Linked DNA regions of Homo sapiens. The protein of the gene in region 3 purifies or fractionates together with the protein of the main gene of each other region. This does not show direct contact. Each region holds a gene or a part of one and is shown on either strand. Other genes may lie near its edges.

Region 1 (3,876 bases), on a different chromosome or scaffold from region 3:
TATAATCTAATTAACAAAAGTTAAAGGCAAAGAGAGAATCTTGAAAGCAGCAAGAGAAAAGTAAATCGTCATACACAAGGGAGCTTTCATAAGATTTCAGCAATTTTGCAGAGGAAACATTACAAGCCAGAAAGGAATCAGGTGATATATTCAAAGTGCTGAAAGCAAAAAACAAAAACAAAAACAAAAACAAAAACAAAAACAAAAACAAAAAAAACCCTGTCAATCAAGAACACTATATCAAGCAAAATTGTTCTACAAGAACAAAAGACAAATCAAATCTTTCCCAGATAAACAAAAGCTAAGGGAGTTCTTCACTACCAGACCTGCCTTACAAGAAATACTAAGAGGAGTCCTGCAAGTGGAAATGAAATGACACTAGACAGCAACACAAAAGTACATGAAAACATAAAGCTCACTGGTAAAGGTAAATATATACACAAGTACAGAGTACACTAACACTGTAATGGTGGTATGTAAAACATTTTTAATTCAGATATAGAATTGAAAAGATGACAGTATAAAAAATAACTAACTATAAGCTATATTAATGGATACAATAAGATGTAAACTGTGATATCAATAACATAAAATAGAAGTGGAGAAACATACAAGAGCAGTATTTTTGTATAAAGTCAAAGGTTATTACCAACTTAAAAGACAATGTTTTGTGTAAGCCTCATGGCAACCACAAAGAAAATACCTATAGAACATATACAAAATAAAATCAGAAAAAAAATCATAGCATGTCAATACAAAAATCAACAAAACAAAAAGGAAGGCAGCAGGAGACATGAGAGACAAAATAGCTATAAGGCAGAAAACAATCAACAAAATGGCAACAGTAAGTCCTTCCCCATCAGTAATTATTGTAAATGTAACTGGATTAAACTCCCCAAACAAAACACACAAAAGTAGCTGAATGAATTTTTCAAAACACACACTCATACACACAAAATACAATTACAGTATATGCTGTTTACAAAAGATGTGCCTTAGATGTAAAGACACACATATACTGAAAAAGATGAAAAAGATAATCCATACAAATGGTACAAAAAAAGAGCAGAAGTGGCCATACTTACACAAGACAAAATAGACTTTAAGTCAAAGACTGTCACAAGAAAAAAAGAAAATTATATAATGATAAATGGGTCATTATTCTGGAATATATAACAATTATATATATATGCACCTAACACCAGAGCACTCAAATATATAAAGTAAACATTGCCAGAATGGAAGGGAGAAGTATTTAGTAACATAGTAATAGTAGGGTATTTCAATAATCCACTTTCAATAATGGACAGAAAAATAAGACATAAGAGGACCTGAACAACACTACAGATGAATTAGACCTAACATAAATACACAGAACACTCCACACAACAGCAGCAAAATATGCATTCTTCTCAAGTGTACATGGAACATTCTCCACGACAGATTTCATGTTAGGCCACAAAACAAGTCTTAACAAATTTAATAAGACCGAAATCATAGCAAGTATCTTTTCGAAACACAAAGAAATGAAACTAGACATCAATAGCAGTAGAAAAATCAGAAAATCCACAAATATGTAGAAATTAAACTACACACTCTTGAACAACCAAATACACCAAAGAAGAAATCATAAGAGAAATTAGAAAATACCTTTAAACAAATGAAAACACAAACACACATAGTAAAACTTAAGAGAAACAGCAAAAGCAATACTGAAAGGAAAGTTTTAGCATGAACACCTACATTTAAGAAAAAAAGAAAAGTCTCATATCATACTTAATACTTCAAGGAACTAAATAAAGAACAAATTAAACCAAAAATTATCCAAAGAAAGAAAATAAAAATGATTAGAGAAAAAAATAAATAAAATAGAGAACAGAAAGACTTTAGAAAAAAATCAACAAAACTAAGAGTTTTTTGAAAAACAACAACAAAATTAACAAGTACTTAGTTAGATTAAGAAAAAATGAGGCCGGGCAAGGTAGATCATACCTATAATGCCAGCACTTTGGAAGGATAAGGTGGGAGGACCAGTTGACACCAGGAGTTGGAGACTAGCCTGGGCAATATGGTAAGACTGATTTCTACAAAACATATTTTAAAAAGTCAGCCAGGCCTGGTGGTGTATGCTTGTATTTCTAGCCACTTAGGAGACTGAGGTGAGAAGATCATTGAGCCCAGGAGTTTGAGGCTGCAGTGAGCTGACTGCACCAATACACCCAAGCCTAGGTGACAGAGCAACACCTCACCTCCAAAAAAAAAAAAAAAGAAAGAAAGAAAAAGAAAAAATACCAGAAGCGTAATAACTAAAATCAGAAATGAAACAGCAGACATTACAGTTGATGCCACAAACATTGAAAGGATTATAAAAGACTACTAAGAATGCTAATAAACTGGATAACCTAGAAAAAGTGGATAAATTCCTAGAAACATACCACCTACCAAGACTGAATCATGAAGGAAGAGAAAATCTTAACAGACGTATAACTAACAAGGAGATTGAATCAGTAAGCAAAAACCTTCTAACAAAGAAAAGCCCAGGAGCAGATAGCTTCACTGCAGAATTCCACCAAACATTTAAAAAGAAATTAATGTCAATCCTTTTCAAAATCTTCCAAAAAAACTGAAAAGGAGGGAGTACTTCCAAACTCATTTTATCAGGCCAGCATTACTCTGATACCAATGCCAGACAAATATATTACAAGAAAACTGCAAGCCATAAGTCCCTGATGAATACTGACGCAAAAATCCTTAACAAAATACTAGTAAACTCATGTCTGGGGAACGCACGTGCTACCACCACCGGGCTGAAAAAAAGAAACCCAATCTAGCCTACTGGACAATGAGAAGCCACGTACACCCCGGCCAATAGCCAGAACCAAATGCAAGATATATGAGTGAGGCCACATTAGACCATCCAGTTCCAATCAAGCTATCAGATGACTAACTGCATGAATGACCCCAGGTGAGAAAAAAATAAGTGCCAGCTAAGCTCAATCAAAATTATATAATTATAAGAAAATAAATGATTGTTGCTTTACATCGCTGAATTTGGGAATAATTTGTTACAAAGCAATAAATACTTAATAAGGCATACCTTCTTGTTCTGCTTTTTGACCTAGACCTCTGAACTCTATAGGATTTCCCTCGACCCCTTGAACGACTTCGACTTCGTTTCCTTCTGGAGCCATAAGAAGAGCTACTGCTTGATCGATGCCTGCGTCTGAAATAAAATATAATCAAAGATCACTGCTATAAAAATTTTTATTATGAGCATTAAGGAAAAACCTTCTAGATTCTAAAGAATCATCTGATTTTTACTGTCTCACTGTTTCCTGGAAGCAAACAGAGATAAATTAAAATGTTATTTCTCTTGAACAGTCATATGACTGGTTCATAACTTAGTGATTGGATCAGTACTAATTAAGGTATTAAGGGTCTTAGAATCTTTCCAAATATCATCAGATTATATGGTATGAAAACTAAACCAAGGCCAGGCTCAGTAGCTCATGCCTGTAATCCCAACATGTTGGGAGGCCGAGGCAGGAGGATCGCTTGAGGCCAAGAATTCGATACCAGCTTGGGCAACACAGCAAGGCCAAGTCTCCACAAAAAATAAAAATAAAAAAACTTAGCTAGGCATGGTGGCACATGCCTCTAGTACTAGCTATTCAGGAAGCTGAGGTGGGAGGATCCCTTGAGTCCAAAAGATATGACTGCACCGCTGCACTCCCGCCTGAGTGACAGAGCAAGATCTTGTCTCTAAAAAAATTTAAAATTAAGGCCAGGCACGGTGGCTCACGCCTGTAATCCCAACATTTTGGGAGGCTGAGGAGGGCAGATCACCTGAGGTCAGGAGTTCAAGACCAGCCTGAC
Region 2 (3,876 bases), on a different chromosome or scaffold from region 3:
ACAGGCCACTGTGTGGGTGGTACAATAAAAACACGATATGGAAAAACAGGGCAAGGTGGTTTAAAACTAGAATTCAGAGACCAACCAAGACAAAGGCCACCAAGGCTTTCCAACAGAGGGGCACAAGGGAGAAATTCACACACAAGGCCACATGGACGTTTCACTGATGGCAAGGGGGAATCAAGAGGGTCCATGCTAAGGGACACACTCAAGAACAAGCCAAAGGCTGGGCGCAGCGGCTCATGCCTCCCAGCACTTTGGGAAGCTGAGGAAAATGGAATGCTTGAGCTCAGGAGTTTGAGACCAGCCCAGGCAACATGGCAAGACCCTGTCTCCACCAAAAATACAAAAAAATAGCCAGATATGGTGGTGTGAGCCTGTGGTACCAGCTACTTGGGAGGCTGAGGTGGAAGGGTTGCTTGAGGTTGAGCCGGGGCGGGTGGGGGGGTTGCAGCAGAGGTTGCAGTGAGCCTAGATTGTGCTACTGCACTCCAGCCTGGGCAACAGAGCAACACTGTCTCAAAACAAGGCCGGGCGCGGTGGCTCACGCCTGTAATCCCAGCACTTTGGGAGGCCGAGGCGGGCAGATCATGAGGTCAGGAGATCGAGACCATCCTGGCTAACAAGGTGAAACCCCGTCTCTACTAAAAATACAAAAAATTAGCCAGGCGCGGTGGCGGGCGCCTGTAGTCCCAGCTACTCGGGAGGCTGAGGCAGGAGAATGGCGTGAACCCAGGAAGCGGAGCTTACAGTGAGCCGAGATTGCACCACTGCAGTCCGCAGTCCGGCCTGGGCGACAGAGCGAGACTCTGTCTCAAAAAAAAAAAAAAAAAAAAAAACAAATAAACAACAAGAAAGAACAAGCCGGCTAGGTGCGGTGGCTTATGCCTGTAATCCCGGCACTTTGGGAGGCTGAGGTGGGCAGATCACCCGAGGTCAGGAGTTTGAGACCAGCCTGGCCAACATGGTGAAACACCGTCTCTACTAAAAATACAAAAATTAGCCAGGCATGATGGCACGTGCCTGTAATCCCAGCTATTTGGGAGGCTGAGGCAGAAGAATTGCTTGAACCTGGGAGGCGGAGGTTGCAGTGAGCTGAGATCGCGCCATTGCACTCCAGCCTGGGCGTTGCAGCAAGACTGTCTCAAAAAAAAAAAAAAAAAAAAAAAAAAAAAGCCAAGACCCAACATCCTGCCATCCTGTTGTCTGAACACTTCACCACATCCTGTTCATGAAGTGATTTCAGTGGAATTAAACCTGACCTGTTTAGCTTTATTTTGAGATAATGAATCCTGAGTGGAATTAGCTACAATCCCAGTCAATAGCCAATACAGGCCTCTTTGCACAGCCTGGGGCAGCATTAGTTATATATCACATCAGCCTGATGTTCAGCTCCACAGCCCTCTATGTGAAAACCACTCATGATACCCAAGACCTGCTCCAACCTCCCATTTCATAGGGGGGACAGTGTTCGCCACCCTGCCACTACTCAACCACCCTAGACCCCATAGAGTTGAGGTAATTAAAAGACATGGTGCTTTAGTGAAGCACATGGTATGTGGAAGGAGCTTAACAAACTCTGGCTACTATTACTACAAACACACTCATGGCTCCCAGGACCACATCATATCTTCCAATTAAAAAGAAAAGAAAGAGCTACTCGTGGTAGTGGTTTCTAGTATAACCAAATTATTGGATTTGGGTAAAAGCTACTTCTATATGGTGTGTGGTATTACAACTTCTTAACTTATTAAGTAACCTCAGCAGGTTGGGATTAGAGGAGACCCACACCCACAGGGAAGACAAAAACCATAAAATACAAGTTATACCTTGCACAGAGTGACAATGCAGGGGACATTCTCCACACTTAGTCGTATGCAGTCATAAGGGTCATCTGACAATTCAATGTCCTTCGACCCCTCTTCATCCTCCAAAACTCGAACCCTTGGTATCCTGGAAGCAGAAGCACTAGTAAAATTCCCACTTGGAGGAGGAAAAATAACTTCTTTTTAAGATTGAGAATAGGAGTTGGAATCCCTGTGTCTCACAAGAGAAAGACACGCTATGCCTATTCTTTATCATCCTCATCCCTGTCATCCCTGTCAAAAGCACACAGGAGGCGCCGCAGTGCAATGAGGAAAGGCATCTTTTAGAAAATGATGCTGGGTCAATCAGATATCCCAATGGAAAAAAAAGAATCTCAATCCCTACCTCACACCACACACACGAAGCCATACCAAATAGACCATAGATATAAAAAATAAAAGACAAGACAATAAAGCATTTAGAAAAAAACATCTGCATGACCTTGGAGTAGACAACTATTTCTTGAACAGGATACAGAAAGAGAAAAAAGTTACATATTCAATTATAACATCATGAACTTCTGTATATCAGAAGACATCATTTAAAAACTAAAAATATAATCTGGGGAGATAAAATACTACCTGACAGATTACATAAAGAATTCCTATTAAACAAAAAAAAGACAGCCCAACAGAAAAATGGACAAAAGACTCAAACGTAGAATATATTTGGATGTCTTCATAAAAGAGGCTGTCTGAGTAGCCAATAAACCAAGAAAAGGTGCTCAATTTAAATATCTATTAAAAATGCAAATTAAAACTACACTGTGATACCAAGGCACAACCAAAATAACTATTAAAAAAAAAAACAAAAAAAAAAAAACGCCAGGCATGGTGGCTCATGCCTGTAATCCCAGTACTTTCAGAGGCCAAGGCGGGAGGATCACCTGAGGTCAGGAGTTCGAGACCAGCCTGGCCAAGATGGTGAAACCCCATCTCTACTAAAAATACAAAAATTAGCTGGGTGTGGTGGTGCACACCTGTAATCCCAGCTACTTGGGAGGCTGAGGTAAGAGAATCGCTTGAACCTGGGAAGTGGAGGTTGCAGTGAACTGAGATCACGCCACTGCAGTCCAGCCTGGGAGACAGAGTGAGACTCCATCTCAAAAAAAAAAAGCAAGAGTTGACAAAAATGTGAAACAACCCGGAACTCTTACATACACTGCTGGTGGAAGTGTTAACTGGTAAAACACTTTGTGAAACTGGCAGCATCTACCGTAACTAAAGATAGCCATACCCTATAACCCAGAACACTCCTCCCTAACAGAAATAGAGAAATATGTGCACCAAAGACATGCACAAAATGTTCATGATGCCCATCCCTATTTGTAATAGCCTCAAACTGGAAATGAACCAGATGGCCATCAACAGTAGACTGATAAACAACAGCAGACTGGACAGTAGACTGGATAAACAGCAGACTGGACAAAGTCACACAATGGAACACCATACAGCAAAAAGCAAGCTATGACTAAGGCAGCAACACAGATCTCTCAAAACACAATGCTTAGTGAATGAGGCAGACACAAAACAGAACATAGTATATGATACCATTTATATCAAGTACAAAAGTAATCTATTCTTTTAAGATGCTGGTTATCATCAGTGAGTGTAATTGCATGGGGGTACAGAAGGTGTGGGATGCTTCTGGGGTGCTGGCAACATTCTGTTTCTTCAGCTGGGTACTGAAAAACACATTTAACCTATAAAGTCAATTCACTCCAGGCTGGGTTGGAGGAGCCAGGAAGGAAGAGGTGGTCCATCCAGCTACTGTAATGGAAACAGCATTAGTACTTTTCCCAGTTCCTCTAACAAAACCCCCCATGATTGAGCCCTGCTGGCCATCCATACACAAGGCAACATCTAGATCAGATCAGGGGAGCTTCAGCCAGAGAATGTTGACAAGGGCCAAGGAGTTCTGTAAGGGTCTTCCCCATTTGGAGCCTTCCCATCAGAGGAAGTTCTACTAAGTAATATCCTATTTGAACAAGTTGTCAACCATTTACACACA
Region 3 (4,252 bases):
CAGCATCACCTTAAAAAAAATAAATTTGTCTTTTACATACCATCTCATTAGAATGTAGTGTTTAGTCAAATGTAGGCTCCACTGTAAAGGGACTTAGACTTTTCTAATTTAAAAAGAATATGTTCTTTATATCAACTTGCTGGAAACTTTAAATGTCTAAGTTAACAGCTTGACTGTTCAAGATTCCTTACATGGCTTTATCATAATAATATTTTCAGAGCTCATTTTCAAGCATAAATGAGTATCAAATGACAAAGCTAGTGGGAAAAATGTCATTTCAAACCCAATTATACTAACACTAGGAGAAGTTAAAGCAATATTTGTCTTAAAAGCACACATTTACCAAGTATTGGTGGGAAAAGATGAACACTCCACATGCCTGCCTTTGTTATTTCCACAATTTTCTTATTTTAAGGTTACAAGATGGTTGCGGTGTTCACACAAAGCCTAATATCCAAGACTTTTCACAGTATGCTACTGATTCTTACCAACATAACCTAGGCATATATGCATTTCACTTTTCAGTCTTGGAGTAAATAATAAAACATCCTATAACAACCCTAAAAAATTTCAAAAACTTTCTCATACTTTTGCATTTGTATTATCAAGGAAATTTCAAAAGAAGATTGTTTTCACTAGTGGAACCCTGACATGATCTGGGTCCCCCTAAAAGACCATAAAATAGAAGTGAATGACTGTAGTATCTAATCCCATAAACAGTGTGTGAACAAGAGAATTTTACACAAGCCCACAGCATTGCTGGGTCCCAGTGTTATTTTTTTAACCCTCTAGGACATTATGCAGCATCCAAAAAAAACTCAAATTAATAATTTTGCATGGAGAATTTATTGCAGATATACACAGGTATCTTCCTTGAGGTATATAAAAGAAATATACTTCCTAAGTGTCCTGATTCTTACTGCAGCTTATTTGTGACTTTTTTATCCGAATTTCCATTGAATTAACTGGTCATCTAGGTAGAGTACATTTCATTTGAAAATTTTTTTGATTAAACAACAGGAGACCTGCTAATACAGTCTATATAAGGCACATACTGAAGGCTTCATTTTCATCCCAGATAAACAGGTACCACTAGCAATACAGAGCATCCTAGGAAATGTGACTCTGCACATGTTAGGTCTGAGAGTGCAGAAACAAACTGTCAAAACAGAAAATAATGTGTGCTCGTGGTATGCAGACGTGATTACAACTTCCTCCTTTTACAGTGATGCACAACCACATTCTGACAATGATGTGTTATCTCATGTTGTAAGAGAATGGAGGAGAGGGGAGGGAAGGAGCTAGTTAGAGAGGTAAGGAAGAAAGAAAAGAAAATGGAAGAAAAAAAGAAGGAGGTGAGGGAGAGGAGGAGGAAAGAAAGGAGGAGGTATTTTACTATTAACTCCTTGACAGTTTATCTGAAAATGTTGTATTTCATCCACTCTTTGAAAGGGAAAACTATCTTTTATAGCTATAATGTTTTGATTTGCAAATAATGACTTTGCCATTCCATGCTACAATTAAATTCAAATCAACAACATGACTGTTTCTTGCAGATTAAAAAGCTGAATTTTTAAAAGGTACAGATCTTTATCTTCTGTTTTCAGATTTTTCTATAGATCAAGTTAAAAGTCCATCAACATAAAATAAAAGAAAAAGAAAAATGTATAACTATGAAATATTCACAAAATGTAATTTAGAATTATTTTATCATTTTAAAATGAAAATAACTTAAAACCATAAATTACACAAGAATAAAATTAATGTTTTTATTTTATTTTGTTCTTCATACAAGGAATAAAAATTAAATCACTATTCAGTATATAAATGGGATTTACAACATAAACCTAATTTTATACTTTTTTCATAATTGAGTTCCAATTTTAAATTTCACAACTAAATTCTTAAAAACCATATAAATTTACACAATACATAATAAAAAGCTAATTTATTGATTTCTTCTTGTCTCTCACATTGTCTCTTGCAGCTTTTGAAAAAGCAAGCAATTTTTTGGTGTTAATGACACTGACTAAAATAAAGATATATACCACAGGCCATAGCAGTTTGATTATGGAACTCTCTGGGTAGTTTTGGGGTTTTTGTAGTTTTTATTTTTTAAATCAATACAATGAACAAAATTTAAAATAGTTTGTTTCACAATAACTTGAATGCATTCCTTAGCAAACCTGCCTTGCCATTTAATGTATTTTTAAAAAATAAATATTTGAAAAGTGTATCCACAATGTTCCTAAGAAATGGTTTTGAATTCCAGAGTCCAAGGAAATGAATTGGCTGTCAGATAACAATGTGCTTCCATCAGATGGATTTGGCAGTTGTAAACAAAAGGAATTTTCTCAGCTTTTCCTCACAAATATGAAATATTTGCTCTTGGCCAACAGCTGGGGTGATTTAAAGAAGTCCTGCATATATATTAGTTTTCATTCAGAATTACAAATCCTCCTCCCACTCTGAAACATCTGACTTAGTCTTAGTAGAATAGAAAATTGTTCTGAGATGAAGTGACATTCCCAGAGGAAGTAAAAGTCAAAAAATAGTACCTACTTACAACTCTAATCAAATTTCAGAGCATATAGCATCTGGTTAATAAGTTTTAGGAAAAGTTAATTTATTCAAGATGAAAGTTCAGACAACACTCTGAAGTGACTTGAAAAAGAATGAGAAAGTTTGTTTAGTTCTAGTGTCCCTGAAAATATTTAAAACAACAATATAACCAAAATAGAGACTGCATAAAAAGCCATCAAAACTCCTTCAATGGTTTGGAAGTTAACAACTAAACTCAAGATACTTTCCTGTGGTGACTAAAAGTTATTCTTGAAAACATAAAGTTTAAATGATAATTTAAATTATCTATTCATTTTACCAAACATTTGAATTATATTGATGCTTTCTTAAAGATTAAAATATCTTTGCAAGTTACTTACTAGGAATTAGCTAATCACATAGTCTATCAAGGAGATCAAAGAATAAATACTTTCAGAGTATTTTTTATATATTTAGAGATAGGCTATGAACTTATAAGCTTTGTTATGAATGCAACCAAATGTTTACCAATTTTAATTTCCCTCTAAAATTAGTTGAAAGTAGTGATTTTAAATTTATTTTGAATTCCACAATTATAGTCCTTGTATTGTAATATTTAACATAGAGAAAGACCAATAGTAAAATAAAGTAGACATTTCTGTGTTTTACTTGAGGTGATAAAAATATAGTCTATATATTTATAAATATCTTGGAAGGGGACAAACCATTTTTCTACTTATGGACAATTACAGGGAATTAACTTCTGCCCTTTTGCCCAGTGAACCTGAATATGTGTTAAGCTTAAAATGAACATTAGATTTTATTATTTTTTGAAAAAAATTATTTTTACTTAAAGTGACTATTAAGGCAGGCATGAAAACTTATTAAAATAATTGTTGTTTCTTTTACTAGAGCTTTTCTTTGCCTTCAAAATGCAAACATATCAAACCTGAATAATCAAGGCATGTAAGACATACAATTCGTACTTCAATTACAAGGTCTGTAATTTATCTTAATTATTTCAGACAGAGGTTTTGTCTTTTGCAGATATATACTGTAAACATTTTTAAAGTCCTCAAGTAATATGTAAAAAACGTATCTTAAAATCTGAAGTCTACATTTAATCTTCTTGGGAAGAAAACCAACTTTGAATGACCACAATTTGATAACACAGTTCTTACTTTCATAATGTTTAGATTATTTTTCCAGAATAAATATTTTTAAAGCTAGGGCCAAATAAAATAAAACTGAAAAGTAATTATTAACAATAACAATGTTCACCACGCTAAATATAAAAAAGTAAATCTTTATTAGTAAAATATAAAATATTTCATCAAATGTCACTGATAACACACAAAGCACCACCATGAAAATGAAAATAACAATTAGCAAAACTTCTCTCTTCCCTAATGCACCATTAACGCAAATAAAAGTACCACCTTTCTTCCTACATGAGCAAATAAAACAAATCAAATGAAGAATAAGAAATGCTTGTACATCTTTAAGTACCAAAGCAATGATTATCAAGGAAATACATGTCTCAGGAAAGTAACTGTATTTTTGAGCTTAATTACAAGTTAGAACTTTTTATTCAGGAACTCTATTTGTCATAAATTAACCTGAAAACCACTCATTCATCCTCCTTTTTCTGCAAAATTTCAAACCCTAAGACATGAAATTGAAGACATGATGCTTGAAATTTAAGTATTTT
Region 4 (3,876 bases), on a different chromosome or scaffold from region 3:
CACTCAAGCGCTTCCTCACCTCGCAGGTGGGTGCCCGTGGGGGTCCTCAGATGACTGGGACAGAGGTGTGAGACGCCGCAAGCTGGGACACATCCTGAGGCCAGCGTGTCCGAAGGAGCAGCAGTGGAGTATGGGGCCCAGCCGGGTGTCTGTGTGCTTCAGTTTCCTCAGCTCCAAAAAGGGAATAGAGCAGGTTCTGGCTCAGGTGTTGCTGAGGAGGGGGTAAGGCCTCAGTCCCCTCCGGGAGGCAGGTGTCTCCAGCGTGGAGATGGCCTCTTCACAGACGCCTGCACCCTGGCCTGGTTGGTCCTGGTCACTGGTCGTATCCCTTGCTCCTCCACATATGGTGTTAACGGTTTATCCTGATTTTTTTTTTTTAAGGAGTCTCGCTTTGTCTCCCAGGCTGGAGTACGGTGGCGCAGTCTAATCTCACTGTAGCGTCCGCCTCCTGGGTTCAAGTGATTCTCCTGCCTCAGCCTGCTGAGTAGCTGGCATTACAGGTGCTCACCATCATGTCTGGCTAATTTTTTTGTATTTTTAAAAGAGATGAGGTTTCACCATGTTGGCCAGGTTGGTCTTGAACTCCTGACCTCAAGCAGTCCACCCGCCTTGGCCTCCCAAAGTGTGGGGATTACGGGTGTCAGCCACCACACCTGGCCTATCCTAATTTCTGGATAGCTTTATTGCAGTTGAAAATCAGGGTTCCAGCTGGTGCGGTGGCTCACGCCTGTAATCCCAGCACTTCAGGAGGCCGAGGTGGGTGCATCACCTGAGGTCAGGAGTTTGAGACCAGCCTGGACAACATGACGAAACCCCATCTCTACCGAAAACACAAAAATTAGCCAGGCGTGGTGGTGAGCACCTTTAATCCCAGCTACTGGGGAGGCCGAGGCAGGAGAATCACTTGAACCTGGGAGGTGGAGGTTGCAGTGAGCCAAGATTGCACCACCGCATTCCAGCCTGGGTGACACAGCAAGACTCCATCTCAAAAAAAAAAAAAAAGGAAAATCAGGGTTCCTTGATTTTTTGATATTTTGGTGGGTTTTCTGACTTCTGCAGTAAATCACACATTTTGTTTTATGTAAGACAGTATTAAAGTCATCAACTCTTGCCAGCACATTCTTCTGTGAATTGTTTAGGTTTTGGCAAGACTAACTTCCCAGTTGCTTTTCTGTGACACCTGACCAACTTTTAAAATATAAAGCACCTCTGTGCCCAGGGGAAAGTCTCGTGCGCCCCGCAGTGGCAGCGACAGAGCATGGCGGGCCGAGAGTGACTGTCGTGAGAGTCCTGCCTGCAGCTTGGGGAGGAAGGGAACAGGCATCACAGCCAGGGCTTTACAACTTAAAGCTCAGCCTTTATTTACATTTTAGTTCAAGATGGGTTCTTTGAAATCTCAAATATTATGTCAGAATTAGAGAAGGAAGAAAGTCTGCTGATTGATAGGTTAAGATAGTTTTCCTGATGGTGATTCCACAAAGTGAGTGCCTGGCTGGCCGGGTGGAGAGGAGTTGGAGGGGAGCCCTGTCTCGGAAAGGGGCGTGGCGTGGTTGTGAAGACCTTGGACCGGGAGGGTTTCCTGGCACACAGCCCAGCCAAGGGTGAAGTGTGGACACCTCGCTGGGCTTCAGGGCACAAGAGACCTTGCTCATCACTGCTTCTGTGTTACAGACCAAGCTCCACGAAGATCTCTGTGAGAAGAGGACGGCTGCCACCCTTGCCACCCACGAGCTCCGTGCCGTCAAAGGGCCCCTGCTGTACTGCGCCCGGCCCCCACAGGACCTCAAGGTGCTGCAGCCTCCTTTGCAGGGTCTGCTGAAGAGTCTCCTTGGTGTCGAAAGACGCCATGCTGCTACTGCAGCCCGAACTTTTTTTTTTTTTGGAGATGGAGTTCCATTGTTGCCCAGGCTGGAGTGCAGTGGCACAATCTCGGCTCACTGCAGCCTCTGCCTCCTGGGTTGAAGCGATTCTCCTGCTTCAGCCTCCCGAATAGCTGAGTTTACAGGCATGTGCCACCACGCCCAGCTAATTTTGTATTTTTAGTAGAGACGAGGTTTCTCCATGTTGGTCAGGCTGGTCTCAAACTCCAGGCCTCAGGTGATCCGCCCAACTTGGCCTCCCAAAGTGCTGGGATTACAGGCGTAAGCCACCGCACCCGGCCTGAACATTTTCTTTAGAGTAGGATCCGATGCTGTTCTTGCAAAGACATGAAATAATGAAACAGACCGCGTTTGCGGTTACTCGAAGCGGTGCACAGCTGTGAGAGGACTCGGCGGATGAGCAGTCGTTGGGAAAATGGTTTCCTTCACTCGCTCACTACCTTTTAATCAGAAATTTTGGTCTCTGTCCCGATAGTAAAACCGTTTGCGTGGGGTTGGCAGTAGGGTGAGTTGCTGTGTCGTGCTGTCCTGGGCTGTTGAATCTGTGGAGTGCACGAGGTCCCGGCTGCTCAGCCTTTCTCTCCTCTTTTGGCCTTCTGAGGATGGCAGACCTCTGGAAACAGTTGTGCATGAGCTGGCTTTAAGGTTAAGCCCTGCCTCAGTAGGATCGGTGTGTTTGGGCGTCAGGTCTCCCCGGGACGCTGCAGTGGCAGCCCACATGCAGCTTCTTGCTGCGTGGTCCCGTGGGATGCTCCCTGCCTGCTGTAGAGATGAATGAGGGCGGGAGTCGGGAGGGCTCATTGAGGCTTAAGGCCGTAATCGACACGATGGGCGAGTTCTGTGGCTGTGACCCTAGTGGAGTTTGTGGGTTTCTGCCCGATAGATTGTCCCCTTGGGGCGGAAAGAAGCCAAGGCCAAGGAGCTGGTGCGGCAGCTGCAGCTGGAGGCCGAGGAGCAGAGGAAGCAGAAGAAGCGGCAGAGTGTGTCGGGCCTGCACAGGTGGGCAGCGTGCCTGGTGGGGTGGGGCCGGGCCCGGGGGAGTGCCGCATGCTGGCCTCAGCTGAGTTAGTCTGTGCTCCTCAGGAACCGCCTAATGCTACCAGAACCCAGAAGCTTCTTAACAGGGTACAAAGAAAGCATTCTCTTTCCAAAGGAGACGTTGTGGAACCAGTCTGTCATCTAGATGGCCCTGACGTGAGGGAAGTGGAAGGTGTTAGGAGCGGAGGTATTGGCCATTCCACAGGGGGCGGGTGGCCCTCAGGATGGGACAGGACAGGATATAAACTAGCCATTAGGAAACAGACATAAATGCCAGCCCAACCCACAGCATTTTATCCATACCGTGCGCTGTTGGGTATCATCCAAGTCAGGGTCCTTGGTGCTGCTCTAAGCAAGATGATCATCCGTAACTAGCCCAGTGATTTCTGTAAACACAGGCTTCAGAATACTTTGTTCTTTGAAGCTTGTTATGCTTGGGCCCTTGATATTACACTTAATTTGTGTAAAGAACTTTTTGAGTCGTCCATTTTACCCTTTAGGTATGTTTTCAGGTGTGTGCTTTTTTTTTTTTTTTTGAGATGGGGTCTCACTCTTGTCGCCCAGGCTGGAGTGCAATGGCACGATCTTGGCTCACTGCAACCTCCACCTCCTAGGTTCAAGCGATTCTGCCGCCTCAGCCTCCCGAGTAGCTGGGATTACAGGCGCCTGCCACCATGCCTGGCTAATATTTGTGTTTTTAGTAGAGACGGGGTTTCGCCATGTTAGCCAGGCTGGTCCTGAACTCCTGACTTCAAGCAGTCTGCCTGCCTCAGCCTCCCAAACTGCTAGGATTACAGGCGTGAGCCACCACGCCCAGCTGTGCCTTTTTTCTTTTTTTTTTTTTTTAAGATGTGGTCGCGCCATGTTGCCCAGGCTGGAGTGAGGTGGCTAATCATAGGCGCAGTCCCACTACTGATCAGCACCGGAGCTTTTTGTCCTGCTCTGTTTCTGACCTGGG

Evidence for each region.
Region 1: the proteins of SLIT2 (region 3) and RSRC1 purify together in Homo sapiens (affinity purification with mass spectrometry, with the first as the bait; one large-scale study listed by BioGRID). This does not show direct contact.
Region 2: the proteins of SLIT2 (region 3) and EXOSC7 purify together in Homo sapiens (affinity purification with mass spectrometry, with the first as the bait; one large-scale study listed by BioGRID). This does not show direct contact.
Region 4: the proteins of SLIT2 (region 3) and LRRC47 purify together in Homo sapiens (affinity purification with mass spectrometry, with the first as the bait; one large-scale study listed by BioGRID). This does not show direct contact.

What each region holds. Positions count from the first base shown.
Region 1 is NC_000003.12:158,123,213-158,127,088, reverse strand, and holds part of RSRC1 (serine/Arginine-related protein 53), read right to left. Parts: intron 3,224-3,876; coding exon 3,098-3,223; intron 1-3,097. UniProt on the Homo sapiens protein: Has a role in alternative splicing and transcription regulation. Involved in both constitutive and alternative pre-mRNA splicing. May have a role in the recognition of the 3' splice site during the second step of splicing.
Region 2 is NC_000003.12:45,003,368-45,007,243, reverse strand, and holds part of EXOSC7 (exosome complex component RRP42), read right to left. Parts: intron 1,954-3,876; coding exon 1,830-1,953; intron 1-1,829. UniProt on the Homo sapiens protein: Non-catalytic component of the RNA exosome complex which has 3'->5' exoribonuclease activity and participates in a multitude of cellular RNA processing and degradation events.
Region 3 is NC_000004.12:20,257,988-20,262,239, reverse strand, and holds part of SLIT2 (slit homolog 2 protein isoform 1 precursor), read right to left. Parts: intron 1-4,252. UniProt on the Homo sapiens protein: Thought to act as molecular guidance cue in cellular migration, and function appears to be mediated by interaction with roundabout homolog receptors.
Region 4 is NC_000001.11:3,782,999-3,786,874, reverse strand, and holds part of LRRC47 (leucine-rich repeat-containing protein 47), read left to right. Parts: coding exon 1-26; intron 27-1,671; coding exon 1,672-1,788; intron 1,789-2,763; coding exon 2,764-2,879; intron 2,880-3,876.